7 linked regions of the Homo sapiens genome follow. Changing the gene in region 1 together with any one later gene gives a genetic interaction. Each region holds a gene or a part of one and is shown on either strand. Other genes may lie near its edges.

Region 1 (4,489 bases):
GGTTCTAGGGCAATTTGTTCTTCGGGCTCCCGGTGAAACATGGCAGGAAAAAAAACGTTTTACTCCTTTTCATTGGATTTTTTATTCATTTATACTTAACAATTATTGGATGAATGTATAAGGGAATTAGTAGCTGACCAGGCTGAACCGGAAACTTCTTCAAAATGTATAACTTGGATTATGTACTTTAAAATAATGTTTTGGGAAGGCTGACTCATTGGGAATACTATGATGGAAGTGTTGACAGTGAGAAAAGGGTAGTCTTATCTAGAGATCAGCTAAGTGTCATTTTTTAAGTAAAAAAGGTACGTGTTGTTTTATTCTGAAAAAAATCCCTTATCTTTTATCATAGTCTCTTAGATTTCCTTAACTTGAATTTGTTCACTATGAGAGTAAAACTACATAAAGTAAAAGTTTTTCAAGAAAAAGAACAAATACTTTTTTACAGTTTGAGCTCTTTGTCTCATTCTTTGGCTGGTCCTGGTTTCCCCACTCACTAGCGGTGTGATTTCGGCTTACATAGCCTCCCAAGGCCTCAGTGTCCTCATCTGCGAAACGAAGACAGTGATAGCAGCTGTCTCGAGGGGTGTTCTGAGAATCACACAGGCATATGTATATATAGCCAGGGGCATAGTATGTGCGGATAAATGTTAGCTAGTTGTGTTGTCAGCTTCAGCCATCAGTGCTTAGTGAGTGTGCTGTTTTCTTACTGTTTAAATTTTTCATGTCATTCGCACTGTATCAGATTTCCAGAGTCAGGCAGATAATATGAGCTGGGGCGTGGGGCGGGGGTAGGGGCGGACGGCATGGGGAAGTCAAGAGACTATTACAAATTGAAGAGTCTTGGGAGGGCTTCATGGAAGAGGAGGGACTTAGCTGACTCTCAGAATGAAGTAGTGTTTATATGGCTGGAACCTCACACCTACTGGAATGGCTACTATGAAATAAAAACAAAATAACAAGTGTTGGCAAGGATGTGAATTCCAAGGCTTGTGCACTGTTGGTGGGAATGACAAACGGTTCAGCCACTATGAAAAACAGTTTTTTGGTGCCTCAAAAAAATTAAAAATAGAATTACCATATAATCCAGCAGTTCCTTCTAGGTATTTACCCAAAATGATTGAAAGCAGGGTCTCAAAGAGCTGTTTGTACAGCCACGTTCATTGCAGCAGCATCCACAATAGCTAAAAGATGGGAGCAACCCACGTGTTCAACAACAGATAGCTGGATAAACAAAATGTAGTGTATGCATACCATGGAATATTTTTCATCCATAAAAAGGAAGGAAACTCTGACCAAGCTGTAGCATAAATAGCCCTTGAGGACTTTATACTGAGTAAAATCAGCCAGTCACAGGAAGACAGTTATCGGGTGATTCCACTTATTTTATAGTAGAATGGTGGATGCTCTAGGCGGGGGAGATGGGTATACGGGGGAATGTTTAATGGGGATGGAATTTTAGTTTTGCAAGATAAAAAGTGTTCTGGAGATTGGTTGCACAGAAATGTAGATGTACTTAACACTACTGAACTTAAGGTGGTCAATTTTATGTGTATTTTACCATAATCAAAAGCACATGGATAAGAAGCTGGAGAAATGGAAGTCTGCGTCATTTGAATCTATAAGCAATACTCATTTTTCGGTTGAGGTGAATGAAGATCACGCTCAGGGGCCTTCTCTCTGTCTTTGCTTTCAGGGTCATGGAGGACGCTGGCGGCGGCGAGGAGACCCCGGCCCCGGAGGCCCCGCACCCCCCTCAGCTCGCGCCTCCGGAGGAGCAGGGGTTGCTCTTCCAGGAGGAAACCATCGATCTTGGCGGAGATGAGTTTGGATCCGAAGAGAACGAGACCGCATCGGAAGGCTCGAGTCCTCTCGCGGACAAGCTGAACGAACACATGATGGAGAGCGTCCTCATCTCTGACTCCCCCAACAGCGAGGGCGACGCGGGCGACCTGGGCCGAGTGCGGGACGAAGCTGAGCCCGGAGGGGAAGGCGACCCAGGCCCGGAGCCCGCGGGCACCCCGAGTCCCAGCGGCGAGGCCGACGGCGACTGTGCCCCCGAGGACGCGGCACCCAGTAGCGGAGGGGCCCCGAGGCAGGACGCGGCCCGCGAGGTCCCAGGCAGCGAAGCCGCGCGCCCGGAGCAGGAGCCTCCCGTTGCGGAGCCGGTCCCGGTGTGCACCATCTTCAGCCAGCGCGCGCCCCCAGCCTCCGGGGACGGCTTCGAGCCGCAGATGGTGAAGTCGCCCAGCTTCGGTGGCGCCAGCGAGGCCTCGGCCAGGACACCGCCCCAGGTCGTGCAGCCCAGCCCCAGCCTCAGCACGTTCTTCGGAGACACGGCCGCCAGCCACTCCTTGGCCTCGGACTTCTTCGACTCCTTTACTACCTCCGCCTTCATTTCCGTCAGCAATCCCGGCGCGGGCTCCCCGGCCCCCGCCAGCCCGCCTCCCCTCGCTGTGCCCGGGACCGAGGGGCGCCCCGAACCCGTGGCCATGCGAGGGCCCCAGGCAGCTGCGCCCCCGGCGTCGCCAGAGCCTTTCGCGCACATCCAGGCAGTGTTTGCAGGGAGTGACGACCCCTTTGCCACCGCCCTGAGCATGAGCGAGATGGACCGGAGGAACGACGCCTGGCTTCCCGGCGAGGCTACGCGTGGAGTCCTGCGGGCCGTGGCCACCCAGCAGCGCGGCGCCGTGTTCGTGGACAAGGAGAACCTCACCATGCCGGGCCTCAGGTTCGACAACATCCAGGTGAGCCCGGGTCTCCCACCTCCGCAGCCCGTGCCTCCTCTCTGCGTCTGTGAGATACGCACAGTGCCCCTTTAGGGATGGAGAAGGAGAAGGCCTTGTTTTCAGTAATTCCTAACATCCCATTGTGAGCGCCTGTGTTCCTCTGTCCCTGGGTAATTAGGGATCTGTTGGTTTCCCCAACAGAACATATTTAATGGACTGCTACTCAGAGAGGTAGAAATAAATACCACCAAGGCAGACAGTTCTACCGTAATTCTCTCAGTCAGTTCTCCATGTCCTGTAATCCATTTGACATTTGAACTCCAGTTAATAATAAATCCATTTCTTTCTTTAAAATATGGAAAAATATATTCCTGTAACATATAATGTGCCCGATGTAGAATTTTTATAGGTTGAATAAGAAAAATACGCGTGACCCAAAAAGTAACAAATCACAGAAATATATAAATGTTAAGCTAAATGGTAACATACAAATGTTCGATCTCACTACTAATGAAAGACAATTGATGCAGGGTTTTTTTCGGTGCCGCTTTGCCAGCTGGAGACCTCCGTGGTCGGCGATGCCCCTGCCCAGGCCTCTCTCGGCCCAGGTTCGCCCACTAGGCCTGCCGGGCCGCACCTGGCTTGCGCTTTGGCATATCCCGTGGCCTCGGTGACTGTGCTCTCAGCCCCCAGCAGGTGGGTTGTGCGAGCAACTGAGTGTAGGGGTCCGGGGGCTGCTCCAACCGCCAGCATAGGAGCAGGCTTCACACGGGGCTTGTAGCTGGACCAGGCGTGTGGCAAGTGACTCCCACAGTGGACTCCTGCGTCCAGGCGAGGGGAACACCGTGGCGCCCGAAGAGCAACAACCGCGACCCCGAAGCCCGAGAGGGGATGTTACAGCGTGCACACAGCTCTTTTCGACCCGCATCTGCTGCCGGACTAACGGGCATCTTAACGGCTCTAAACGGGCGCATTAACAGACCACTGCTTCCCGTTGAGTGGGGCAGCCGAAGGGGGTGGGGGATGGAGGGTTACAGTGTTATTGCTGTCTTGGTACCTGCACTCCGCGGAGTCCTGAGTTCTTGTCCTGCCTCCAAGAAGAACGAGATTATGCCGACAACCAGAGTGTGAGGAGGGCGGACGAGTTTTATTGAGCACAAAACAGCTCTCAGCAGAGAGGGGAGGCGAGGGTGGTCCCCCACCGAAAGTCAGGTGGTGTCTCTCCCAGTGTGGCTGGCTCAGGGGCTTTTTTGGGCTCAGAATGGAGGGGTGCATGCTGATTGTGAGTATGCAAAAAAGAAGGCTAAAACAAAGTCACCACTCAAAGGTGGGCACGACAGTGGAAAAAACCAGTTGGGGAAGGGTAGGTATATGTAAAATAGGTGAAGAGGGGTAATCAATCAGAGGAAAGTGCTCCACATGGGACGAAAGGTTCTCAGTCCCTTACGTGGGTTTATCCGGGACTTGCAGCTAGGCTTTAAACTGTCTTCAGTTCCAGTCAGGTTTCACCGGGGACCGCCCCTGTCTGCCTAGGATTTGTCTGCCTCCTGCTGCCATCACACTCGAGTCATTTCCGTTTCCATTTATCAATCATGATCTACTGTTTGTTGAAGTGTGGGAAAATAGCCTCTCTAAGGCAGCCCAGATGGGACCAAAATCAGTACAAACATATTTAAGTAAATTTTAAAATGCGTATCAAATGTGCATATTCTTTGACCCAGAAATTCCACTCTTAGGAATGTATTGTGAGGACATAATCA
Region 2 (4,489 bases), on another chromosome or scaffold:
AGGCTAATACAAGTTACATAGTCATTTATCAATATGTATTCAAAACTCTGGCAACCACTGTGGGTAATGATGGAGAATAAGAAAAAGAAAAAGGGAAAAAACGCTGGCAACCAAACACAAATTATTATTAAATGTTTATTGGGTGATTTGAGATAATCTGTGTAGAACTTTATTTTTTAAAAGTATGATTCATAAAGAGCATGCCATCTAACTTTCCCAAAAGTTTACCTTCTTTCCTAGATCTTCTTTTCTGTATCCTAGAAGTTCAAGGTATTTTCCACGAGAATCATCCTCAAAGTTTACCTTTAAAAAAAAAGACATATTCTTAAAACAAAGACCTACATTTAAAGGCCGAATTTTTATAAGAATGAATCAAATTCCAAAGAGAATTATTAAAAATATCTGAAGTCTACATTCTAAAGATTCACTGTTTGAAGGAATCCAAAGAATAGTGGGTTTTTTTGTTTTTTATTTGGAGACCCAGCCTCAGGAGGTCCTGAGAACATGTGCCCAGAATTATTTTTTTAAATAAGTTATTTATTAATAGTAAATATACTAGTAATTAATTATCCTGGTTGAATAAAGCTTACTTTTGAACAGTAATTTCTGTAAATACAAACTTATGTCCAAAGGTTAAACTGATACAAAACTCAAACTATGTGGAATATTCTATGTCCTAAAATTCTTTCCCAAAATTATTACAAAATATAAATTCTTTAATTTTATACTTTAACCTAACTGTATTCAAGACTGCTTTACCTTTGAAAAACCAGTACCGTATAAAGAAACAGACATTCCAGTGGAGGCAAAATGACCAACCAGGAAATTCTATTTGTTATTCTAATCTAACTCCTCTTAAAGTAAAAGGAAAAATGCCTCCAACCTCTCTCCTCTATTCCTCTTCCTCTTTTTTCATTTTCCTTAACTAGATCTACTATAGATGTTAAATATTCTGTTTTCATTATAGTAAACTCTATGTACTCATCTTCAAAATAGGTGTGCTGACTATGTCGCTCTCCTCTAAACAGACCTATTATTATTTTTTTTTACTTATTAAAAATGTATTTCATATTACACTTTTCAAAGCAGAGAAGGAAAAACTCTGGACATAAGTTAGGTTGTATGCTCTTTATAAGGCTTCTTAATTTCATGATGAATTGCTGAAATCACACTTTTTCAATTGTTTCTTTAATAGGAGGACAGATTTAGAATATAAAGGAACAGTTAAATTTGCAGATAATGAAATAATATAGCTTTAAACAGCAACTTTACCTTCAAAAAGGACCACACATTTTTCTCAAATTCAGTCTGAGAAGCATCAATTTTTTTTTGGCAATAATTGATAAATCCTTGTGACTGCACAGCCTGCTGAAGTTGGTCTGATCGGCTGAGGAACTCCTTTTCTGTTACAACCTGACTAATGAACACATGGTGCTGCTGCTGCTGCTGCTCAGCTCCCTGATGAGAAGGCATTCTGACATTCTCAAACGTAACCAGTTTGCCTCCAAACTATAAAAGAGAGAATGAACAAACTCAGTGTTAACCCAAGGATATGGCCAAAAAAAGTGCTTATAAAGTGGCCTAAACAGATAATCTGGATGAAATTAGTTGATACAACCTCTCATGCGCCACAGTCTGACACCACTTCAATTTCTGTTCTAGATGAAATGTACTTTTTTGGTTTTTTGGTTTTTTTTTTTTTGAGACAGAGTTTCGCTCTTAGTCACCCAGGCTGGAGTGCAAAGGTGGGATCTTGGCTCACTACAACCTCTGCCTCCTGGGTTCACGTGATTCTCCTGCCTCAGCCTCCTGAGTAGCTGGGATTACAGGTGCCGGCCACCATGCCTGGCTAACTTTTGTATGTTTAGTAGACAGGGTTTCACCATGTTGGCCAGGCTGGTCTTGAACTCCTAACCTCAAGTGATCCACCCAGATAGAGAAGACCAGATAGGACGATGAGAAGATTAAGCAGATCCAAAGAACAGACTTACGAGTGACATAAAACATATTCAAAGGTCCATTTTAGGAAGATTAATCTTGGAATATGTAGTAGAGATTAGAGGGGGAAAAGACAAGCAACAAATATGAAATCAAGCTATTAGAAGTTTGGCATGAAAGAATTAGGCAAGGTATCAGCAATGTAAAAGGAAGAAACAAACAAAAAGTGCTAGAGAGGATGTGGAGAAACTAGAACCCTTGTGCACCACTAGTGAGAATGTAAAATGGTAAAACGGCTATAAAATGGTATGGAGGTTCTTCAAAAACTTAAAAATAGAACCATCCTATGATCCAGCAATCCCACTTCTGGGTATATGTCCCAAAAAACTGAAAGCAGGATCCCAAAATGATAATTACAAACCCATGTTCACCACAGCATTTATTCACAATAGCCAAAAGGTGGAAGCAACCAAAATGACCATCAAATGAATGGATAAAAAAAAATGTGGTATATATATATATATATATATATATATATATATATATATATATATATACAATGCAATATTATTTGGCCTCTAAAAAGAAGTAAATTCTGTCACACTACAACACAGATAAACCTTGAGGACATTAAGCTAAGTAAAATAAGCCAGCCACAAAAAGACAAGTACTGCATGATTCCATTTATATGAGTAATTTAAAGTAGAAAACTCCTAGCAACAAAGTAGAATGTGGTTACCAGGGATTCAAGGGAAACAGGAAATGGGGAGCTGTTGTTCAAGGGCACAGAGTTTCAGTTTTGCAAGATGAGAAAGTTCTAGAGATCTGTTGCACAACAACGTGTATATAGTTAACACTACTGTAGTATATATTTAAAAATGGTTGTAGTGTATATTTTAAAATGGTTAAGATAGTAAATTTTATATTATGCATTTTTTACAATTAAAATTTTATATTATGCATTTTTTACCATTAAAAAAAGCTGGCAATTAAAAAAGAAAGCTAAAAGGATGAAGAAGAGGGAGGACACTCCCTGCAAAAAGAAAAGAAAAAAAGAAGAAAAGAAAAGAAAAAGAAGGGAGGGAGGGAGGGAAAGAGAGACAGAGGGAGGGAAAGAGAGACAGAGAGAGAGAGAAGGAAGACAAATTTAAAAGGGAGGAGGGCCGGGTGCAGTGACTCATGCCTGTAATCCCAGCACTTTGGGAGGCCGAAGCGGGTGGATCACCTGAGGTCAGGAGTTCAAGACCAGGCCAGTCAACATGGTAAAACCCCATCTCTACTAAAAATACAAAAACCAGCCAGGTGTGGTGGCACGTGCTTGTAATCCCAGCTACCCAGGAGGCTGAGGCAGGAGAATCGCTTGAACCAAGGAGGCGGAGGTTGCAGTGAGCCAAGGTTGTGCCACTGCACTCCAGCCTGTACAACAGAGTGAGACTGTCTCAAAAAAACAAACAAACAAACAAAAAAATGGAGGAGGGGAGGAATATAAAGTGTTGGCTACACAACAACAATGTAAATGTACTTAATGCCATTGAACTGTATATTTAAAAATGAACAAAATGATCAATTTTATGTATATTTTACCATGATTTTTAAAAAAGGGAAAAAAAAGAGTAGGTTCCAATTTTTCAGAGAAACCATTTTGAATGATGAAATACCCACAAGTACATCTCAAATCCCAACTTAAACCCTGATTGCTTCCATCAGAGTGACTCTATAATAACACTTTGGTATAAAAAGTCCTTTGTGCCTATGGACCATAAAAACAAAATCCACCTACTGAAAAAGAAGCACCAACAGGCCTTCGAATCCACTTGGGCGGCTTCTTCAGAGGCAGCACTATACTATGCTGAGCAGTCTGCTGTGGAATTTGTAACGGAGGAAGGGGCTGTCCTGTGCCAAAGGGATCAAGATTCCCAAAAGATGATGAAAGCTAAAAAAGATAATAATAACATAAGCATCCGACCATACACAAAGTTTCATTTTTTTCCAGTCATATCCAAAAAAATTTTTGATCACAATTGTCCAATTAACCAGCATTGTTAATCAGTGAAGTCATTTCAAAATATTACACAACACATACTTTTTTCAGGCATTATAATAGAAAACTTTAACACTTCCTATTACCTTGTCAACTTGTTTCTGTCTTAAACCATCTGTGCTACCTCCCATGATAGAATAAACACTGATACGCCCATCAAACGAAGCAGCTGATAAGACAGCAGGATTTCGGGGACACCACTGAATATCGAAGCACCACTGTGTGTTGGTGGGAAGTTCATATAACACCTAGGCCAACAAAAAACAAACAACAAAACTCAGAAAATGGTATGGCCACTTTGTAACCAAAACACCTGAATTAATGTGGTCAACAAGTATAGTTAAATTGAATATTTTTTTGTAGAAAGTATCTTTAGCCAGGAAAAAGAATACTAAGATTTTTTAAAGTGCAAGAATGATCCATTACGATGACCTATTCTGATTAACAGGAATGCAGCTTAAAATTTCAATCAGATTTGAATAAACGCATTTTAAAAACTGAGGCTTTTCT
Region 3 (4,489 bases), on another chromosome or scaffold:
CTTTAACTCGGGAGGCGGAGGTTGTGGTGAGCTGAGATTGTGCCATTGCACTCTAGCCTGGGCAACAAGAGCAAAACTCTGTCTCAAAAACAAACAAAAAAAAAGAAGTGGGCAAGGCTGGGCACAGTGGCTCATGCCTGTAGTCCCAGCACTGGGAGGCTGAGGCAGGCAGATCATGAGGTCAGGAGTTTGAGATCAGCCTGGCCAACATGGTGAAATCCGTCTCTACTAAAAATACAAAACTAGATGGGCGTGGTGGTACACACCTGTAATCCCAGGTACTAGGGAGGCTGAAGCAGGAGAATCACTTGAACCCAGGAGGCGGAGGTTACAGTGAGCAAGATCGTACCATTGCACTCCAGCCTGGGTGAGAGGTCAAGACTCCATCTCAAAAAAAAAAAAAAAAAAAAAAAGAAGTGGGCAGGTGTTTGGTGTTTGCTTTAAGGGCAGGTTTGAATGTCTGCCCTCTCCTTTAACAACTTCAGTAGGGAGCCTACTATGCTGAGTGCCATGCCAGGTCCTAAACACACAAAGATCAAACAGGACCCGATCTGTGCCCCTAAAGGGCTCACCCACCAGAGAATGAGGCAAATAAGGAACAATGAGATAGCAGTTGAGAAGACAGCCCATGTAGGAGACAAGCCCTCAGCCCATTTGGGGCAAGGGAAGGCTTCACAGAGGAAGTGGCATTCAAACTGAGCTTTGAGAGAAAAGTAGGGAGATACAGTTTCCAGGCACGTGAGGTGCAGAAGAGCCTTCTAGGCAAAGTGAACAGTAGGCATTTAGCCCAGAGATGGGTCAAGGAGAGGCTGTATTGAATAGCGATAAGAGCACACCCCATCTCTGCCATTACTACATAGTCCCCCACTCTAACATGGGGATTAAACACAGAACCTACCTCCTGGGGTTGTCGGAGGATTAAAGGAGTCAACACATAGGGCTCACAAGAGTGCCTGGCACATGGCAAAAATAGAAGTTTAGCTTTTATTTGTATTACTGTTCTTATACATAGAGGATGGGGCTATTTAATTGGAAAAGTAATCTCTTACAATACCAAGCTATTAATGCAGAGGATGCCAAAAATATTCCGATTCTCCTCTGCCAAGGTTTTTGCAAGCATGATTACCTGGATTTTGGCACATCCTAGTTTATAAATTCTACCTAAAGCAGTGCTTCTCAAACAGCCCCAACATATGTACCCTTCACTCAAGTCAGGGGAGAGGAAACTCCCAGAAATCTGGGAGTTGAACCCAAAGCAGCTGGCTACAAGCAAAATACTGTCTTTGGCCAGGTGCAGCGGCTCATGCCTGTAATCCCAGCACTTCGGGAGGCCAAAGTAGGAGGATCACTTGAGCCCAGGAGTTCTGAGACCAGCCTGGGCAACATGGCAAAACCCTGTCTCTACTAAAAATACAAAAACTAGCCGGGCATGGTGGTACATGCCTACAGTCCCAGCTACTCAGGAGGCTGAGGTGGGAGGATCACTTGGGTCCACAAGATCAAGGCGGAAGTAAGCCATGATCGTCCCACTGCACTCCAGCCTGGGTGAGAGAGGCCCTGTCTCAAAAATAAATAAATTAATTAATTAATTAAAGTTTCCTGTGTTAGCTTCAATTCATGCAAACTTTGCATTCTAATCTATAATAGTTACAGGACTGTTTTAATATTAAAACGCTTACAACTAAGTAAAACTGAAGTGGCACAGCGTTCTCTTCTGTAAAATGGGAATACAACCCACATCAATTCTGTTCAATGTCTACAAAATGAGACAATTTGTGAAACCATCAAGCAATGTACAAGGCATCCCAGCAGACATTTTGTTTTTGTTTTAGACATGGGGTCTCATTATGTTGCCCAGGCTGGTTTTTTTTTTTTTTTTTTTTGAGATAGACTCTTGGTCTGTTGCCCAGGCTGGAGTGCAGTGGTGCAATCTCGGCTCACTGCAACGTCCACCTCCCAGGTTGAACTGCCTCCCAGGTTCCTGCCTAAGCCTCCCAAGTAGCTGGGATTACAGGCATGTGCCACCACGCCTGACTAATTTTGGTATTTTTAGTAGAGATGGGGTTTCACCATGTTGGCCAGGCTGGTCTCGAACTCCTGACTTCAGGTGATCTCCCAGCCTCAGCCTTCCAAAGTGCTAGGATTATAGGCGTGATCCACCACACCTGGCCCCCAAGCTGGTCTTGAACTCCTGGGATCAAGCGATCCTCCCAAAGTGCTAGGATTATAGGCATGAGCCACTGTGCCCAGCCCCAGCATACATTTGGTACACATGTTGAATCAGAATCAGTGTTGAGGCTGGGCACAATTACCTGAGGTCAGGAGATCGAGACCAGCCTGGCCAACATAGAGGAACCCTGTCTCTACTAAAAGTACAAAAATTAGCTGGGCATGGTGGCACACGCCTATAATCCCAGCTACTCAGGAGGCTGAGGCAGGAGAATAGCTTGAGCCCGGGAGACAGAGGTTGCAGTGAGCCAAGATCACGCCATTGCACTCCAGCCTGGGAGACAAGAGTGAAACTCCATCTCAAAAAAAAAAAAAAAAAAAAAAAAAAAAATCAGCCAGACACGGTGGCTCATGCTTGTAATCCCAGCACTCTGGGAGGCCGATGAGGCGGGCAGATCACCTCACCTGAGGTCAGGAGTTTGAGACCAGCCTGGCCAACATGGTCAAACCCCATCTCTACAAAAATACCAAAAAAAAAAATTAGCCGGGCATGATGGCAGGTGCCTGTAATCCCAGCTACTCAGGAGGCTGAGGCAGGAGAATCGCTTGAACACAGGAGGCGGAGGTTGCAGTGAGCCTGGGCAACAGAATGAGAATGAGACTGCCTCAAAAAAAAAAAGAACCTTCAAACCCCTACCTACCCATCAGAGGCAACTGCTATTTTGTGGGCATCCAGTCTGCCAGCACTGGACTAGCTCCTTTCTTTGTTTCTAATTCTGCAAGGTATTTAGCATCCCCATTTTACCAGAAGAAACACAGGCTCAGTGAGGTCAAGTAACAAGCCCAGGGTCACACAACTGGTAAGTGGGGGAATCAGGATGAGAACTCAGGTCCAACTGCCTCTGAAGTTCTAGTGCCTTCCACCCGACCACACTGCCTGTTTACTGGGCAAGGGTTAGAAGTAGAAGGTCTGGCCAGGCGCAGTGGCTCACGCCTGTAATCCCAGCACTTTGGGAGGCCAGGGTGGGCGGATCACGAGGTCAGGAGATCGAGACCATCCTGGCTAACACGGCGGAACCCCATCTCTACTAAAAATACAAAACAATTAGCCGGACGTGGTGGTGGGCACCTGTAGTCCCAACTACTCTGGAGGCTGAGGTAGGAGAATGGCATGAACCCGGGAGGCGGAGCTTGCAGTGAGCCAAGATCGCACCACTGCACTCCAGCCTAGGCGACAGAGCGAGACTCCGACTCAAAAAAAAAAAAAGAAGTAGAAGGTCTAAGAAGTACTTGCTTGGTGGGGCTGAATTTAAATGTATGATCTTGCTCTGTTTCCATGTAAATTCTAGTGACAGGAGCTCCTGGTGGCAAGCCACATTCTTCCCACTTGCAAGCAGCAGGCAGCACCACAGGAGAAACAGAGGACTAACCAGAGGCCCGCTCTGTTGCTTCCCCCTTAACCCTGCCCAGTGGGACCCCTGAGTTTACTCACTTTAACTTTCATTTTCTAGCCATTAGGACTTTCAGGTTCCCAGAAAAATTAATGACATGTAGATGTCAGCAAACTCTCAGGCCCTGAAGAGTACTGACTTGGGACTCCTAACTGTTTTGGTCCTCAGAGGCAGAGGTGAAAGGGGTCAAGAGAGAAGACAGGAGGTCGGGTAGACGCTGGGGAAGACAAAAAAACAGAGGAGCGCTAGTGATGAGGAGGGCTAAAGAGTTAAGAGTCTGCCCTTGTGCCGTGGCGCACTCAGTCTGCATGTTCATTCATTTAACGAACAAACCAGGCCGAAGAAGGGCCCACTGTTAGATCAGGTCACATCTGACCCCAAATCCAAGCCCCAGCTCTACTACTTTCTAAATGTATGATCGATCTTAGGCAAACTACTTAAGTTCCTTCTGCATCCCTTCTAAAGCAGGGACACTTGCCTTATCTTACTCAAAAAAAAAAAAGTAATAATAAAAATTAAAAACAAAGTGGGGAAACAAGCCCCACTATTTCCCAAGGCACCTATGAGGAATATGTATGAAAATAATTTTGCAACCTTAAAATGATTTTTAAAAATTAGTGTTACTGTCCCTCTACAGTTTAACAGCCCTCTAATTGTGAGAGGCAAGAGGGCAGGGGAGGAACAGCATCAGAAAGGAGGGGTTCTGTCGCACACGGAGCCATCGCTCTCTCTGCCAGGCAGAGTCAGACCTCTGCTTGGACTCTATAATTTCTAGGTGCCAGAAGTGGCTGCATAACGACCCAAAGCACTGGGGCCTGCCTCGTCTCTCTAAATGGCAGAGCTTCCCCTTCAAAGTCGTTTCAGGTTGG
Region 4 (4,489 bases), on another chromosome or scaffold:
GGAGGCCGTGGCACTGAGGGCAAGATCTGAGGGCTGAGAAGCTGCTGGCACCGGGCAAGGTGGGGAGAGGCAGACTTGAGCCTGAGTGAAACTGCCTGAGGCAAGGAGGACCTTGGCATATGCGGGAAGGTGAAATTCCCAGGGCTGGGAGAGGGAGCAGGGGTTGGCTCAGTCCAGCTGTGGTCCTGCAGGTCCTGGAGGCAGCATGGAGGGTCCAGTTGATGTATGCGGGAAGATTTTGGCGTGGACTGGAGGTCTGAGATGTTTACTGTGAAACTGCTCTGGCTGGGTGGAGACACAGTGGAGGGCAGGAGGCCAGGAGAGCTGCCTGGCCGTGGGAAAAGCTGAGTGGGGGGAGGAGTGCTCCGCAGGAGTGGGCCTTGGGAGAAGGAGGGTGAGTCCCCGGGTGGAGGGGCCAGCAAAGGCTGTGCAGGCTCTGGCTTGGGGACACTGAGGAGCTCCGTTTTGGATCTGCCCACTGTGAGATGTCTGGGAGGCGCCATGGAGACCTTGGTGGGCAGGTGGTGCCAGGATCAGAGTCTGCCAGGGGAGACAGGTTTTAGGAGTCCCTAGGTATAGGTGGTTTGTGTCCTCTGGAAACGTTGGAAGAAGGGGCCAGGCCTAGTCCTGGGCACCACCAGGCTGAGAAGATTGGGGTCAGGGAGGAGGGCAGGGGGAGTGGAGACTGGGGATGGGTCAGGAGGCAGCTGGAGAACCAGGAAAACGTCCTGTCAGTGAAGGTTTGGTTCAGGAAGAACAGCCAAATCCCCGACACCGTTGAGAACACCAGGGTGGTGCTGACTCTGGTGTGGCTGCTCGGAACCCTTAGAAGGCCCTTAGGGTGTTAGTTACTGTTGTTGGTACATCTGTGATTGTGTCTAGCAGGTGTGGGAGTGCCTTGGGAGCTTCACCTGTGGCCAGAGTCCTCAGCGCCAGGTGGACTTCCCTGCAGGGCTGTGACAGGGACAGACAGCGCTTTCTAACAGTGGCCTTGGGAGTGGTAACCTGCCGAGGAACAGCTCCTGGGCTGGGGAGCTGGAGGCAGGCTGCTGCCCACTGGCTAAGGATCTCAGCAAGAGGGGCATTGGGGCATTGGCCCCCATGAGCTTGGGCCACCCTCAGACTGCCGTGGGGGTGTTTTGATTTTTTTTTTTTTCGAGGCGGAATCTCACTCTGTCGCCCAGGCTGGAGTGCAGTGGTGTGATCTCAGCTCACTGCAACCTCCGCCTCCCGGGTTCAAGTGATTCTCCTGCCTCAGCTTCCCGAGTAGCTGGGATTACAGGCGCCCGACACCACGCACAGCTAACGTTTGTATTTTTAATAGAGACGTGTTTCACTATGTTGGTCAGGCTGGTCTCGAACTCCTGACCTCTTGATCTGCCCACCTCAGCCCCCCAAAGTGCTGGGATTACAGACATGAGCCACCATGCCCGGCCCTTTGATTTCTTTAACAAGAAAATGTGTCCTTTTAAAATTTCTATAAGCTCAATAGAGAGGGGATGGACAGTACCAAAAAGCAGAAGGAAGCAAACCCACATTCTCCTTTCAAAGGCAGCATTCCTGTCGCTGAGCAGCTTCTCCAAGGGTGGTCTAGCCGGGCAGAGGGTGTAGGGTGGGAATTGGCCCCTAGAAGGTGCCGTGCCTGATGGGAGAGTCCTGCTCTTGATTGGCCATGGGGCCACTGCTCCACACTCTTCGGTGTGAGGATTTCTGCCTTTGACCAAGGTCTTTGTCTACAAATTGAATTTTCCTGACTGGAAAGCCGACAGGTGCTTCCTTTCCTTCTTTGGTCCTTCGTCTCCTTTGCATATGGAGTATCGTAACTGCCTGAGAGCAGACTGTGGTATTTTTTCCATTGAAAGATGTGTTTCCACCACTCACAAGTGACCCATAAGCCAGCACCTAGTGTCCAGGAGCAGCTGGGGTGGTGGATGGTGAATATTTCTGTCTTTCTCAAGCATTGACTTGGAGACATCCTGCCCTCCAGGGATCACTTGCACTGCCTCTCCTGTTCAGACCCTGGCACTTGTCTAGACCTGGTTAGGGATGAGGCTGTGTTTAGGCCAGATCCCTTTCTGTTAACGTTTTACTTTGGTTGAGTTCAAATTTTTTTGTTTTATATTTTTTTTTTTTTTTTTTTTTTTGAGACAGAGTCTTCCTCTGTTTCCCAGGCTGCAGTGCAGTAGCGCAATCTCAGGTCACTGCAAGCTCCACCTCCCGGGTTCATGCCATTCTCCTGCCTTGGCCTCCTGAGTAGCTAGGACTACAGGTGCCCGCCACCACGCCCGGCTAATTTTTTGTATTTTTAGTAGAGACGGGGTTTCACCGTGTTAGCCAGGATGGTCTTGATCACCTGACCTCGTGATCTGCCCGCCTCAGCCTCCCAAAGTGCTGGGATTACAGGCGTGAGCCACCACGCCCGGCCTTAAAATTATTTAATAGAGATGAGGTCTCACTATGTTGCCCAGACTGGTCTCCAACTCCTGAGCTGAAGTGATCCTCCTGCCTCAGTCTCCTGAAATGCTGGGATCACAGGCATAAGACACCACACCTGTCTGATTTCAAATGTTATAGGGGCTTAGGAGAGAAAATGGGAACATTGAGAAGGTATAAAGGGGAATACACAGCCACACATTACCCCTGTTCCCAGTCCAACTCTTGAAACACTTGGTATATGTCTTTCAATTTATGTGGCTGGGTATGGTGGCTCACACCTGTAATCCCAGCACTTTCAGAGGCCAAGGCAGGCAGATTGCTTACGCCCAGTCTGGGTAACACGGTGAGACCACCATCTCTACCAAAAAAAAAAAAAATTAGCCAGGCACGACATGCCTATAGTCCCAGCTACCTGGGAGGCTGAGGTGGGAGGATCGCTTAAGCCAGGGAGGTTGAGGCTACAGTGAGCTATGATCCAGCCTGGATGACAGGGAGACCCTGTCTCAAAAAATAATAATAATAATTTTATTTGGATAAACACATGTATACATCATTGAGGGTTAGGGGCTGGATTGGTATTTGGATACACACGTGTGTACGTAATTGAGGGTTAGGGGCTGGATTGGTCCCTGTTTCTTTTTTTATGCACATGAGAATATTCCCTTTCATACAGATTTTTATAGCTCTTCTCCATTGCTTGGATAAACCATCATTTTCTAAATCATTTATCTGTTGATTCTTTCTTCATTTGTAAATGTCCCCATTACATCCGTTGTACGTAAACTATTAAGAGTTAAAGGTTGTGAAGATTTTGATGTCCTATGACGTGTATCATGACAAACTATTCCCGAATTTGCTTCCCCTGCTACGGTGCTGAGAGTAGCAGTCAGTGGTGCCATGGCAGCACTGGGCATTCTCGTGTCGGCAATGTTTCCAATGCAACAGTCAGAAACTGGCGCCTGCTTTTCGTGGATGCTTGTGTGTCTTGCCTAGAAGCAGGGACACTTACAGGAGGGGAGAGGTGATGAACGGCCCTATGTGCTCCCATCCCGGAAGCTGTCCGTGTCCTTTGATGAGTCTTAGGACTTTTATATTTTCCTTTATTATTGGTATTCCCTTTATTATTAGTATGACTGTTGTGAGTTAGAATATTTCATCCTTTACCAAGTATGCTTCTTATGACTTCATCCGGCTTAGAAATTAGTTTTAGAGAACTTTGCTATATAGTAGCAGTAATCAATTAGAAAATGTTATTGAAAAGAGATCTCAGGAGGTTGCAGTGGCTCACACCTGTAGTCCCAGCACTTTGGGAGGCCGAGGCAGGCGGATCACTTGAGGTTTGAGGTCAGGAGTTTGAGACCAGCCTGGCCAACATGGTGAAACCCCATCTCTACTAAAAATACACAAATTAGCCAGGCGTGGTGGTGCGCACCTGTAATCCCAGCTACTCAGCAGGCTGAGGCCTGAACTGGGAGGTGGAGGCTGCAGCAAGCGGAGTTCGCACCACTGCATTCCAGCCTGGGTGATAGTGAGACTCAGTCTCGAAAAAGAAAAGAAAAGTGATCTCCATCACAATCACAAGAAAAGAATGCCACCAAGTCCGTAGGAGTAATCCTGATACTAAAATATATAAAGTCAGTATAAATAAAAGTACAACACTCAAGGTATTTGAAAAGACCTAAATAAGTAGACATTTTATTCTTCTGCTGTGAAGATTTAAGCAGTGGCTCACGCCTGTAATCCCAACACTTTGGGAGGCTGAAGCGGGTGGATCACAAGGTCAGGAGATTGAGACCATCCTGGCTAACACAGTGAAACCCCGTCTCTACTAAAAATACAAAAACAAAATTAGCCGGGCGTGGTGGCAGGCACCTATAGTCCCAGCTACTCGGGAGGCTGAGGCAGGAGAATGGCGTGAACCTGGGAGGCGGAGGTTGCAGTGAGCCGAGATCGCGCCACTGCACTCCAGCCTGGGCGACAGAGCAAGACTCTGTCTCAAAAAAAAGAGAAAAGATTTAAGTTCTCCCTAAATTCATCTGTAAATCCATTGACT
Region 5 (4,489 bases), on another chromosome or scaffold:
AAATTAGCCAGACATGGTGGCACATGCCTGTAATCCTAGCTACTTGGGAGGCTGAGGCAGGAGAATAGTTTGAACCTGGGAGGCAGAAGTTGCAGTGAACGGAGATTGTGCCACTGCACTCCAGCCTAGGCAACAGAGCAAGACTGTTTCAAAAAGAAAAAATAAATCAGGGCCGGGCGCAGTGGCTCATGCCTGTAATCCCAGCACTTTGGGAGGCTGAGGCTGGCGGATCACGAGGTCAGGAGTTTGAGACCAGCCTGACCAACATGGTGAAACCCCGGCTCTACTAAAAATATAAAAATTAGCCAGATGTGGTGGTGCGTGCCTGTAATCCAAGCTACTTGGGAGGCTGAGGCAGGAGAATCACTTGAACCTGGGAGGCGGAGGTGTGGTGAGCCAAGATTGTGCCACTGCACCAGCCTGGGTGACAGAGTGAAACTCCATCTCAAAAGAAAAAACAAATTAGCTGGGAGTGGTAGCATGCACCTGTAGTCCCAGCTACTCAGGAGGCTGAGATGGAAGGATCACTTGAGCCCAGGAGGTCAAGGCTGCAGTGAGCCAAGATCTTGCCACTGAACTCCCGCTGGGGTGACAGAGCGAGACCGCCATCTCAAAACCAAAAAAACAAAACAAATGGAATCAGCACAATAGCTGTAGAAAGATGCTATTAGAAAGGATGGGGGGAAATGGAAAATAAGTGGCAGATAAAGTACCCATACTAAAAAGATGTCTTTAGCTTGGTTGAAAAATAATTGTCAGTCCTACCACTGTGAGTTCAAAGAACTTAAGAAAATACAGAACTTCAAGCAGAGATATAGAGGATTGGGTAAAATAAGGCATGGCAAAGAGAAAATATAACATCAGCTGGCAGAGCACACAGGAAAGTAGTGGAAGAGAAAACTAAAATTATCACAGGATTAAAAGCCACATTGGAAACAGAATAAAGGCTGGGCACAGTGGTTCACTCCTGTAATCCCAGCTACTTGGGACACTGAGGCAGGAGACTTACTTGAACCTGGGAAGAGGAGGTTGCAGTGAGCCGAGATCATGTCACTGTACTCCAGCCTGGGTGATGAAGTGAGACTGTCAAAAAAAAAAAGAAAGAAAGAAACAGAATAAAGATGAACACACAGTGCTGAAAACAGTAAAGGTTAGGGAGGACAGATTGAAAAATGAAACTGAAGAAAACAATGAGAACATAATAGATGCAGAAAGTAAAAGAGATCTGACGTAAGTATAATTGGTGTCCCTCAAGAAGAGGACCAAAGAAATGAAACAAACTCAAATATATGGTTAAAGAAGAACTTAGAAGTAAAGATTTGAAGTGATAAGTTCAAATTGGCATGATTTGAACTTGCCAAAGATTTGAAGTGATAAGTTCAAATTGGCATGAAGTGATAAGAAAAATTGGCACTGAACAGTTGGCACTGAAACATTTCCTAGGAAAATTTCTTTTTTAAAAAATTTATCTTATTTTTCGTGTGTTTTGTTTTGTTTTGAGACAGTGTCTCACTCTGTTGCCCAGGCTGGGTGCAGAGGCATGATCCCAGCTCACTGCACTCTTGACCTCCTAGGCTTAATCGATTGTCCCACCTCTGCCTCCCGAGTAGCTGAGACTACAGGTGCACACCACCACGCCCGCTAATTTTTGTATTTCTTGTAGAGGCAGGGTTTTGCCATGTTGCCCAGGCTGGTCTCAAACTGTGGGCTCAAGTGATCCACTAACCTCAGTCTCCCAAAGTGCTGGGACTACAGGCCTGGCACAGAGCCTGGCATCCCTAGGAACATTTCTATGTTTTAAGGATGAAGAAAGAATTATTTGGACACCCAGACAAAATGATCAAGTCCTCTTTAAGAGGGGAAAAGAAATTAGGCTAGCTACATTTGATGACAGAAGGCCATGGAGCAATGTCTAGGAATGTACAAATACTGTAGATTGTGCTGCTATAAATACTTGGGGATATACTTAGGCATATGTAAGGTTTATGTGGAAATAATAATGCTGGGGAACACAAAACAATACTCGAAAAATGGGAAGGTATTCTCTTTTCTTGTATAGTAAAGCTTGGTATCCTAAAGATGTCAGTGTCCCTAAACTTAATGTAATCCCTGTTTAAAATACCACAGTTGTTTTTTCTGGAGACAGGGTCTCGCTCTGTCGCCCAGGCTAGAGTGCAGTAGTGTGAGTATAACTCACTGTAACCTCAAACTCCTGGGCTTAATCAGTAGGTGTCTCACTATGTTGCTCAGACTGGTCTTGAGCTCCTGACCTCAAACAGTCCTCCTGCCTGCCCAACCCAAAGTGCTGGGGTTACAGGCATAGGCCACCATACCTGGCCAAAAATACTCCAGATTTTTAATAATGGTTTTTTAGAACCAGGCAAACTGATTGTTTCTACAGATAAATTTTACAAACATGCACACATTGTCAAAAAACTTCTGAAAAGGTGGACTAATGATGGATATTAAAACATAATGCAAAGATATAATAAATAAGATCGTTTGATACTCTAAGAACTGATGTATAAACAGAGTCTAGAAATGAACTCAGAATACAAAAAGAAATGTAGTCTGTGCTAAAGGTGATAGGAAATGAAGAAAAAATATTTTTAAGGCCAGGCACAGTGGCTCACGCCTGTAATTCCAGCACTTTGGGAGGCGGGGGCAGGCAGATCACGAGGTCAGGAGTTCGAGACCAGCCTGGCCAACATAGTGAAAGCCCGTCTCTACTAAAAATACGAAAAATTAGCCAGGCATGGTGGTGGGCACCTGTAATCCTCGCTACTTGGGAGGCTGAGGCAGGAGAATCACTTGAACCCAGGAGGTGGAGGTTGCAGTGAGCCAAGATTGCATCATTGCACTCCAGCCCGGGTGACAGTGTGAGACCCATATATATATATATATGTATATATATATACATACATATATATACGTATATATATGTATGTATATATATATGTGTATATATATGTATATATATATGTATATATATGTATATATATACGTATATATATATGTGTGTGTATATATATATATATATATTTTTAATAATTGGTATTGAAACCAGAAAAAAAAATTGGATCTCTACCTTAAGCTTTGTACCAGCCGGGTGCAGTGGCTCACACCTGTAATCCCAGCACTTTGGGAGGCTGAGGCGGGTGGATCGCCTAAGGTCAGGAGTTTGAGACCAGTCTGGTCAGCATGGTGAAACCCTGTCTCTACTAAAAATGCAAAAAGTAGCCGGGCATGGTGGCAGGTGCCTGTAATCCCAGCTACTCGGGAAGCTGAGGCAGGAGAATCGCTTGAACCCAGGAGGCAGAGATTGCAGTGAGCCGAGATGGCACCATTGCACTCCAGCCTGGGCAACAGAGTGGGACTCCGTCTCAAAGAAAAAAAAACCTTGTACCAGAATTCCAGATAAATGGAAGAATGTAAACATATAACTGTAAAACACGGGAGAATCTTGGTGTGAGAAAGCCATGAAAGTAGAAGTAAACTATATAAAAATAAAATCTCTGTAACAAAACCAAAGTCAAAAGATAAGTGACAAACTGAAAAAATACATGTAATGTCCTAGACAAAGAACAAATCCCTTAATAACTGCATATAAAGATCTGCAAATCACCAGGAGACCAGTCACCCAGTAGAAAAAGAGAAATAGATAGGAAGAGTTTCCAGAAAGGATATGTAAATGATTCTTGAACGTATGAAGAACTGAACCTCATAAGAAAAAAAAAAAATGGAGTTTCAGCTAGATTAGGAAAAATAAAAAACCGTGGTAATCTACTGTGTGTGTGTGTATACACGTATGTGTAGCTTTCCCATGCAGTTGCTATCAAAATTTAAATTGGCATTATTTTCCACCTGGTAGTTCCGCTAGTGGTAATTCATCCTACAGCTATACTCATGTGGTTGAAATGACTAAAGTGCAAGGATATTCATTTTAGCATTATTTGTAAAAGAAAAATATGAAAATATTATTATTAGGGAAATTGTTGAATAAATTATGCTACCTCCATGCAGCTGTTAAAAGAATGAGCTAGCTTTTCATATACTGATATGGAATATTTTAAAATAAATATTCGGTGGAAAAATATGTAGAAGAGTAAACACCTGTGTTTTTTAAAAGCATATGCATATACATATGTACACCCATATGTGGTTGTGTGTAGAAGGGATACACAAGAAATTGATAACATTGATTTTTCCAGGGAAAGGGACTGGGATGTAGGGGCTCTAATTTGTACTGTAATTGCTTTGCTTTTATGCCTTTCAAAATTTGGGCCTTGTGTATGTATTACCTAGTAAGAAAGTTAGTAATAAAAAAGCTAACATTAATAAAAATTAAATCTTAGTAGAACTTCAGAAAGAGGAATAAACAGAAAGGAATGAATGAAGAAGCACTAGGCATATAGTAGCAAGAAGCAGTTCTTTTTATAGAGAAGAAGTCAGGCATGATAATATTAACATCAGATAAAATTCAAGGCAA
Region 6 (4,489 bases), on another chromosome or scaffold:
ACTCAGGCAGGAGTACAGTGGCGAGACCTCGGCTCGGCTCACTGCAACCTCTGCCTCCTGGGTTCAAAGGATTTTCCTGCCTCAACCTCCCAAGTAGTTGGGATTACAGGGGTGCAGCACCACGCCCAGCTAATTTTTTTCTTGTATTTTTAGTAGAGACAGGGTTTCACCATGTTGGCCAGGCTGGTCTTGAACTCCTCACCTCAAGTGATCCGCCCACTTCAGCTTCCCAAAGTGTTGGGAATGAGCCCACCTGGAATGAGCTCATTACAGGCATGAGCCACCACACCTGGCCTATGCAGCTTTTTGAGTCTAGCTTCTTTTATTCAGCACAATGTCTTTGAGAGGCATCCATGTTTGTTTAAGTATTGACAGTTCATTCCTTTTTATTGCTGCATTATATTCTATTGTATGAGTGTACCATGGATTGTGCATATATTATTTGAAGGACATTTCAGTTTTTACCACATTTTTAGAGATTATGAATTCCCTCAAAGATTTTGAAAGTAAGATTAAGGAAGAAATGTGAGGACAGTCTGATTCACAATGCAGTAAATAAAAATGTAAAACATATGCTTTTTAAATAAGAGAAAATCCTAGCTTCAGTTTCTTTCTTTCTTTTTTTTTTTGAGACAGAGTCTCACTCTGTTGCCCAAGCTGGAGTGGAGTGATTGGAGTGATGCGGTCTCGGCTCACTGCAACGTCCGCCTCTCAGGTTCAAGCAATTCTCCTGTCTCAGTCTCCTGAGAAGCTGCGATTACAGGCGCCTGCCACCACGCTCGGCTATTTTTTCGTATTTTTAGTAGAGATGGGGTTTCACCATGTTGGCCAGCCTGGTCTCAAACTCCTGACCTCGTGGTCCGTCCGCCTCAGCCTCCCAAAATGCTGGGATTACAGGCGGACGCACTGCCACCAGCCAAGCTTCAGTTTTTAAGATAGAAAAATACATTTCACATGTTCCTTCAATTTTTACTCACCCATGTTTGCCAGAAGGCAGATGGCAGCTTGTACATCCACTCCCGCATATACATCTGCTAGTGAACTTACCACTGGCAAACAAAGTGTATGTACTCTAATTCTCCGCTCACCTAAAAAAAAAGTCATTGAAAATACATTAGATCAAAAAGGAAATAAAGCAAAGCAAACATGTCAAATACTTTTTTTCTTTCTTTCTTTCTTTTTTTTTTTTTTGAGACGGAGTCTTGCTCTGTCTCTTAGGCTGGAGTGCAATGGTGTGATCACAGCTCACTGCAACTTCTGTCTCCTAGGTTCAAGTGATTCTCCTGCCTCAGCCTCCCAAGTAGCTGGGATTACAGGTGCCTGCCACCATACCCAGCTAATTTTTGTATTTTTAGTAGAGATGGGGTTTCACCAGGTTGGCCAGGCTGGTCTGGAACTCCTGACCTCAGGTGATCCACCCACCTCGGCCTCCCAAAGTGCTGGGATTACAGGCGTGAGCCACCGCCACATCCAGCCACAAGTCGAATTTTTATTCAAGTTATTGTTTTGGCTAGATTACATCACCAACAGGATTTTGAGATGTAAAAACCAAGTTTTACAATGAACATTTTTAAAAGAAAATTAAACACTCTCCAAATCTGCAGAGTATGAACATACGCTATATCACTCATTCTAAATTATATCCTATAGAGTAAAATACCAGAAAACTTAACTGTCAAGTAACAAATGAAGGCCTTAATTGCTAAGCAGTTTTTTACTTTTTGGGGCAAGAAATAATACAAAGAATGGCATAGCTGGATTTAGCATGAACTGTTTTGAAACAAGATTCTAAGAATACAAGTCTTCCATAAATTAAAAAAGTGTGCTATTTAAAGATGCAAAAGTGAGAGTTAAAAAAAGAAAGAAAATAACAACATATGTTTGATTAACTAATACAAATTCCATTACTTCCCACTGTGTATTCATTCTTTTTCCCCACTCCACTAAAGGCCATGTGAAAGGAGGGAGGAATTACTGCTGCAGACTATATTTCATTTCTGTTAACATTACCTTTGCTTGATGTATATAATAGGGCTGTTTGAAAACATACTAAGGAAGTATCTGTTAAACTTTCTTCAATTGACAACTGCACCGCAAATCCAGCATCAGGATTGATGTTGGCAAGGGATAACAAATCAGTAGAACGGACAAAGAAGTTACCGTGAAAAGTGTGCATTGAAAGACCTAAAAAGGAGAAAATCATAAAAAATCAAGTTAACAATAGTATCTTCACCTCAAGCTAAAGTTACTTTTTTAAGTCAAAGATGTTTATGATTTTGAATCAAAAGGATAACTGGGGAGTCAAGGTTCAAGCATAGGCAGAGTTTCTAAAATATTAATTCAAAAAAACTAGTGGACGTTATATAAAAGGGAGACTATACATTTCACTTGTATTGACACCTAACCTTATTTACATTTTCTCACATGTGACTTGAAGTCAGACATAATCTGACTAAACATTTAATTTACAAAATTAAGCAAATGAGGGTTATTATATAACTCATCCTAGATTTAAAATAAAGGTAAAATAAAGGATTAAAACAAATATTCACATAAAACCAAGGAAGTGTACATTAAATGATTATGAAGGCAAAGACCCTTACTTTGACAATTCTTATTTAAGATCTTCCCTATTCCTCTAATTCTCCTTCTAAAATCATTTCTAATATAGGCTTTCTCTTAGGTTCTTCTGAGTAAATCAAACATTACTTTTGTCTACTTATTCAAGTTATTTTTAAAAATTGGGCAAGGATTATTCAATAACTATTATCTATTTAAAACATGGTATAGCTAATGAGATCAAACAGTCTTCCATCATGAACAGTCAGAGGTAGTCAATACATGGAATGCTCACTGACTTTGATACAAGTATTTAATATAAAATATAACTTTTACAACTTCATACCTTTAGTACACCTTATTCTCATAACAGCTTCAAACCCAATTTTTCTTGTGAGATACCGTTTTAGGTCTTTTTGTAACTTTTCTGCTTGTGAAGGATTGTGAGTATAGTGGAATGATGGATAATAATAGATGCACCCTGCAGAATACTTGGACATGCAAGCTTTAGAGAGAAATACAAAAAGTATTAGCTATAGAAATAATAATATTTTACTTGTCCAACAGTAGTACAGATTCTACATTATGAAGAAATCTAAGTCATGAGAAAACCTAAGCCATCAAAATAAGAACATACAAATCTGAGAAAACAGTAATATCTATAAAATATATGATAAAGTTTACTGTTGAGCAGAATGGTAAGGGAATCATGCTATCTAAACAAAATACAAGTGACATTTTATATTTGTATAGTGCTTTAAACTTTACTGGTAGTTTTCATAGATATTGTCTATCTAATGCACATGCTTTTCTCCCTAAAATATAGAGAATGCTTACTGAAGAGTTTAGATTTAATTATGCATTAAAAATGTTCATTTAAACAAATGTACCCATGATGACTTTCCTTACCTAGAGAAGCAAGATCAGAATACTGTGAACTTAAAAGGAACAAATCCACTGCAGTTTGCTGTCCCGAGCAATCTAATGCAAGTTTCTTATAAAAATCAGTTGCAGGGCCAAGATGTTGTACCACCTAAGTCAACAGATCATATAGTAAGAGCTAGCAATCTTTATGCTCATATTTTCATGTCATTTTTATAACAAAAAGGATATCCTCTGCCTCCCTACCAAACTAAGAGTTTTCTAAATGTCTAGGCATTTGGTGCAGATTCCCTATGATAATAATAATGATAGATAATCTTTATAAAAAACACTTATGTGCCAGCACTGTTTCACACAAATTAATTTTCATAACACATCTCATATGGTTTTTATCATCTACATTTTCAGACGAAGAAACTGAGGCAATAACTGATTAAGTAACTTGACCAAGATTACATAGATATTGAGAAGTGGATATTGGAATATCAACCCAAGAAATCTGGCTGCAGAATGAGTGCTGTTAACCATTATTAAATATTGTTAAATAACTTAAGAGAGTAAAAGATTAAGGAAGGTGTTTCTTTTGGTATGAGAAGACTTGAGCTGAGAAGGTGACACTGGAGAGAGTCTCCAAGTTCTTAATCATCATACAACATTTCCTAAAAAAAAGTTTCAATCCTCTTAATTACACTGTATGATGATTATATTAGAGCTTACTCTAATATAAGGAATTAAGGATATGAAGGAATATGTAAACCAGAACAGATACTGAAACTTTAGAGTCCTAGGCAGACAGATAGAGAATATTTTTGAAAGTTAAATGAGAAAACAAAACAAATCAAAACAAAGCTCTATCAAAGGATTCAGTAAATATATATCAGCTTCCTGTGTTCAAAACACCACAGTAATTTATAATGGATTGTAATGGGTCAACGAACTAAATGCCAGCTACACTTGTTGATGAGTTTAAAATACATACTTATTTTAAAATTAGCTTCCTTCTCAAATGCAATTTTAAAATACAATTTCTATAAAGGGTGAAATATGG
Region 7 (4,489 bases), on another chromosome or scaffold:
TGATCTGCCTGCCTCGGCCTCCCAAAGTGCTTGGATTACAGGTGGGAGCCACCATGCCCGGCAAGATTGCTAGATCTTAGGCATATTCAAGAGAAACTAGAAATTCCTTTTTTATTTCCTAATTTTACAAACACTTCTTAGGCTCATATAAAAACATGTCTTTAGCTGAGCACAGTGGCACGCATCTGTAGTTCCTGCCACTTGACAGGCTGAGATGGGAAGATCATTTGAGGCCAGGAGTTCGAGGCTGCAATGCGTTATAATAGTGTCTGTGAATAACCACTGCACTGCAGCCTGGGCAACATAGCAAGACCCATCTTTAAAAAAATCTGTCTCATCTATCATCTCTCTATCTGTCATCTATCTAATCTATGTCTTCAGGCCAGATCTAGCCTGTAAACTGGTAATTGAGGCCCTCTCCTCTAGCAGCAGTAGTAACAATTAGAAGTGATTGGAATAGGGAGCAGTGTATTTGGGTTTAGGAGCAGGGAGCAAGACGGTTTAATGACAGAGAAGGAAGCTAAAGATATTAGAGTTTATAAATCAGTTTGTTTATAAATAGGCACGCACATACAGGAATAAATGAGAGAAAGTGTTGCTTTGAAAAAGTTGATGCTATAAGTATGAATCTAACCAAACTAATGACAATAAAAACAGTATTTGTAAGACATTGATGCTTTATTTATTTATTTATTTATTTATTTATTTATTTTTTGAGACGGAGTTTTGCACTTGTCACCCAGGCTGGAGTGCAGTGGCGTGATCTCGGCTCACTGCAACTTCTGCCTCCCAGGTTCAAGCGATTCTCCTGCCTCAGCCTCCCAAGTAGCTGGGATTACAGGCACACGCCACAATGCCCACCTAATTTTTTTTGTATTTTTAGTAGAGATGGGGTTTCACCATGTTGGTCAGGCTGGTCTCGAACTCCTGACCTCAGGTGATCCGCCCACCTCAGCTTCCCAAAGTGCTGGGATTACAAGCATGAGCCACCGTGCCCAGCGACATTGATGCTTTAAATTAGAAAGCAGGACTATTAATTCCTACCTGATGACAAATTTCTTTGTCCTGCTTTCAGAACACATAATTTATATGACTCAAAATGCCTGTTAGAATTTGGAAAAGACTAATTGACCCATTTCTAGATAGACCAGGTATTCTTACATAGGCTATAATACATTCTTTAGCATTCATGTCTAGGCTTAAAATGTTACCCTACATTCTCAGAAAAACAAACTGTATTCCTTTTTTATTTTTTTGAGACAGCGTCTTGCCATGTCATCCAGGCTGGAGTGTAGTGGCACAATCTCGGCTCGCTGCAACCTCTGCCTCCTGGATTCAAGCGATTCTCATGCCTCAGATTCCCAAGTAGCTGGGATTACAGGCATGTGCCACCATGCCTGGTTACTTTTTGTATTTTTAGTAGAGACAGGGTTTCACCATGTTGGCAAGGCTGGTCTTGAACTCCTGACCTCAAGTGATCCACCTGCCTCTGACTTCCAAAGTGCTGGGATTACAGGCATGAGCCACCACGCCCAGCCTATTTATTCTCATTAAAGTAATCTCCCTATAATTTATTGAATAAAATGAATTCTTTAGGAAGACACACCAAGTTTGTTTATCCTGTGCATTTGAATTTCCTTTGGCATATCACCATATGGGGAGACAGAGGTGAGAAGGGGGAATACAAGTAGTCAGTTTAAAGAAGTGAGGGAGCCAGGCACGGTGGCTCATGCCTGTAATCCCAGCACTTTGGGAGGCCGAGGTGGGTGGATCACCTGAGGTCAGGAGTTCAAGACCAGCCTGACCAACATGGAGAAACCCCGTCTCTACTAAAAATACAAAAATTAGCTGGGGTAGTGGTGCATGCCTATAATCCCAGCTACTTGGGAGGCTGAGGCAGGAGAATCACTTGAACCTGGGAGGTGGAGGTTGCGGTGAGCTGAGATTGTGCCATTGCACTCCAGCCTGGGCAAAAAGAGCGAAACTCAGTCTCAAAAAAAAAAAAAAAAGGAAGTGTGGGAAAATATCTATGTTCCAGACCTCATGGTTGGAGCTAAAATATGAACCTTTTTTCTCAGTGGTGTCCAGTTGATAGAAAAGAGAGCTTACTTGCTGTGGGTGTATCTGAGTATCTGGATGACATAATGGAAAACATTTCTTGCTTTAGAACTAGACCGCAGTTTGAATGCCATTTCTGGCACTTTCTGGCTTGTGATTCTGTTTCCTTGTATATAAAGTAGGAGTAATAATGCCTATCTTGGAAAGTGATTTTGGGATTTAAATGAGATGTCCTCTGTTTTTTCCCAGATCTTATAATAGACACTCAGGTGCGAGCTATTGTACCTTTATTGGTTACTAATGAATTGTTACATGCTCTTAATTTCTGCATTCGTGAAAGCACTGGACAAGATCTTGCAGCCACTTCAGAATATTTAGTCTGTTTTTTAGGTCTTTACTCGGAAATCATGTTTATGAAACTTGAACATCAGCTTTGATATCTTGATCATACATTTATATACCATGTATGCTTAAGTTTATAAAATACACAAATCAAAATTAACCAAAATATTAATAATGAAATATTTCCATATTTTTGGTAATAATGATAAAATACATAAATCAAAATTAACCAAAATGTTAATAATGAAATATTTCCATGTTTTTGGTAGTAATGTTTCTTTATGGTTGTTGGCATAACAGGCTATGGATGTCTCTAGCATCAAAGCAATGTTAATAAGTCTAATAAGACTACTGGCTATCATCTATCAACATTGGTCTGATTTGTGATAATTGTGTTCATAAAACTTCTTAATATATTTCCTGGCCTCTCTGAACTATTGGCTTTTTCATTCTTCTGCATGTGCGAGAGATGGAAACCCTTTGAATTAGGGCTTTGTGACTGACCCATTGTCACTACTTCCTTCTTTTTATGTATTTTCTCCTCAAAGCACAAAGAAATTAGAAATATCCTTGTCTGGGTACCGTGGCTCACACCTGTAATCTCAACATTTTGGGAGGCTGAGGCAAAAGGATCACTTGAGCCTAGGAGGTCAAGGCTGCAGTGAGCCAAGTTTGCACCACTGCACTGCAGCTTGGGTGACAGAGTGAGACCCTGTCTCAAAAAAAGAAAAAAAGAAATAATCTTATCTGCAAACATTGCTGAAACCTGTGTAGTTTCTTCTTCTTTTTTCTCTTGGTATTGGTATCAAGGAATTTAAATTTTAGATGGACTGTGTTTATTAAAATTGGTAGACTATGCTAAACAAATTTACAATTCTTTTGCCTAGAAAAATGGAACTACTTAAGTCTTATATAACTGGAAAACTTTTACTTTTCGCTTAACATTAATTGGAATTTTGGTGACAGTGAAAATTATTTTTTTTTCAGGGCTTGTTAAACAACTGTTTTAAAACAGATGATGACCAAAACCCTGCTCAATGAGAATAGTATTGTACGTGAAACTCTAAAGAAGTCATTATTCATCTCATTTTGCAGATGGAATTAAGAATGCAAAAATAGTGGACATGCCAAGTGAATGCTGTTAATAATATGTAAAATTATTTGATTAAACATTTATTACTTAAAAAAAAGTGGACATTAGCCTCACTTATAAGGATAATGTTATTAATACATTATTGTTCATTCCTTTCGAACCAGATTCCAAAATGCTAGAAATTATGTTAAGATGTTATTTTATACTGGGCGTGGTGGCTCACACCCGTGATCCTGGCTCTTTGGGAGGCCAAGGCAGACAGATCATTTGAGGTCAGGAGTTCGAGACCAGCCTGGCTAACATGGTGAAACCCCGTCTCTACTGAAAATACAAAAATTAGCTGGGTAAAGTGGCACACATGCCTGTAATCTCAGCTACTACAGAGGCCGAGGCAGGAGAATCACTTGAACCCGAGAGGTGGAGGTTGCAGTAAGCTGAGATTGCACCACTGCACACCAGCCTGACAAGAGTGAGACTCCGTCTCAAAAAAAAAAAAAAAAAAAAAAAAAAAAATATATATATATATATATATATATATATATATACCTTTATGTAGGCAGTGTAAAATTATGAAAAGAATGTAAGACTCAACTTCAGGAGGTTGAGATTCAAGTTCTGCCTCTGCCTCTGCCTCTTAGTGATTTTTACCTTTGGTAAATATTTAAGTATTCTGAGTTTCTTTTCCTCGTCTGTATTTAATAATAACACATGCTTAGCCTATCCTGTTTGCTATGAGAATCAAATGAGATAACATATAAGAAAGGAATATTTAAATACCAAGGCGAAATTGATCTAAACAAATAATGCTGTCTTTCTGCCTCGTAAGTGAGGTTCAAACTGTAGTGATCACCTTCAGTGAGCACAGCAGCAAGAGCAAGATTCAATCTAAGGAAAAACCCTGACTGAAGAATATTCTAATTGTTTTTGAGAAGAGGTGACTTAGGGTCCTTGATCAGTTGTGCCACATACACCATAAAATAAAAAGTAAAAGCATCT

What was found.
Region 2: changes in TRAPPC12 (region 1) and SEC31A together harm fitness less than expected from each alone (positive genetic interaction), as found in Homo sapiens cells (one large-scale study listed by BioGRID).
Region 3: changes in TRAPPC12 (region 1) and RAB5C together harm fitness more than expected from each alone (negative genetic interaction), as found in Homo sapiens cells (one large-scale study listed by BioGRID).
Region 4: changes in TRAPPC12 (region 1) and MAN1B1 together harm fitness less than expected from each alone (positive genetic interaction), as found in Homo sapiens cells (one large-scale study listed by BioGRID).
Region 5: changes in TRAPPC12 (region 1) and DCAF7 together harm fitness more than expected from each alone (negative genetic interaction), as found in Homo sapiens cells (one large-scale study listed by BioGRID).
Region 6: changes in TRAPPC12 (region 1) and SEC24B together harm fitness more than expected from each alone (negative genetic interaction), as found in Homo sapiens cells (one large-scale study listed by BioGRID).
Region 7: changes in TRAPPC12 (region 1) and SLC33A1 together harm fitness less than expected from each alone (positive genetic interaction), as found in Homo sapiens cells (one large-scale study listed by BioGRID).

What each region holds. Positions count from the first base shown.
Region 1 is NC_000002.12:3,385,924-3,390,412, forward strand, and holds part of TRAPPC12 (trafficking protein particle complex subunit 12), read left to right. Parts: intron 1-1,696; 5' UTR 1,697-1,700; coding exon 1,701-2,747; intron 2,748-3,762; exon of another isoform or gene 3,763-3,990; coding exon of another isoform or gene 3,991-4,092; intron 4,093-4,489. UniProt on the Homo sapiens protein: Component of the TRAPP complex, which is involved in endoplasmic reticulum to Golgi apparatus trafficking at a very early stage.
Region 2 is NC_000004.12:82,863,090-82,867,578, forward strand, and holds part of SEC31A (protein transport protein Sec31A), read right to left. Parts: intron 4,228-4,489; coding exon 4,066-4,227; intron 3,872-4,065; coding exon 3,719-3,871; intron 1,510-3,718; coding exon 1,273-1,509; intron 304-1,272; coding exon 229-303; intron 1-228. UniProt on the Homo sapiens protein: Component of the coat protein complex II (COPII) which promotes the formation of transport vesicles from the endoplasmic reticulum (ER).
Region 3 is NC_000017.11:42,148,014-42,152,502, forward strand, and holds part of RAB5C (ras-related protein Rab-5C), read right to left. Parts: intron 1-4,489. UniProt on the Homo sapiens protein: The small GTPases Rab are key regulators of intracellular membrane trafficking, from the formation of transport vesicles to their fusion with membranes.
Region 4 is NC_000009.12:137,089,401-137,093,889, forward strand, and holds part of MAN1B1 (endoplasmic reticulum mannosyl-oligosaccharide 1,2-alpha-mannosidase), read left to right. Parts: intron 1-4,489. UniProt on the Homo sapiens protein: Involved in glycoprotein quality control targeting of misfolded glycoproteins for degradation.
Region 5 is NC_000017.11:63,556,417-63,560,905, forward strand, and holds part of DCAF7 (DDB1- and CUL4-associated factor 7), read left to right. Parts: intron 1-4,489. UniProt on the Homo sapiens protein: Involved in craniofacial development. Acts upstream of the EDN1 pathway and is required for formation of the upper jaw equivalent, the palatoquadrate. The activity required for EDN1 pathway function differs between the first and second arches.
Region 6 is NC_000004.12:109,523,921-109,528,409, reverse strand, and holds part of SEC24B (protein transport protein Sec24B), read right to left. Parts: intron 3,593-4,489; coding exon 3,469-3,592; intron 3,065-3,468; coding exon 2,906-3,064; intron 2,185-2,905; coding exon 2,011-2,184; intron 1,089-2,010; coding exon 978-1,088; intron 1-977. UniProt on the Homo sapiens protein: Component of the coat protein complex II (COPII) which promotes the formation of transport vesicles from the endoplasmic reticulum (ER).
Region 7 is NC_000003.12:155,843,975-155,848,463, reverse strand, and holds part of SLC33A1 (acetyl-coenzyme A transporter 1), read left to right. Parts: intron 1-4,489. UniProt on the Homo sapiens protein: Acetyl-CoA transporter that mediates active acetyl-CoA import through the endoplasmic reticulum (ER) membrane into the ER lumen where specific ER-based acetyl-CoA:lysine acetyltransferases are responsible for the acetylation of ER-based protein substrates, such as BACE1.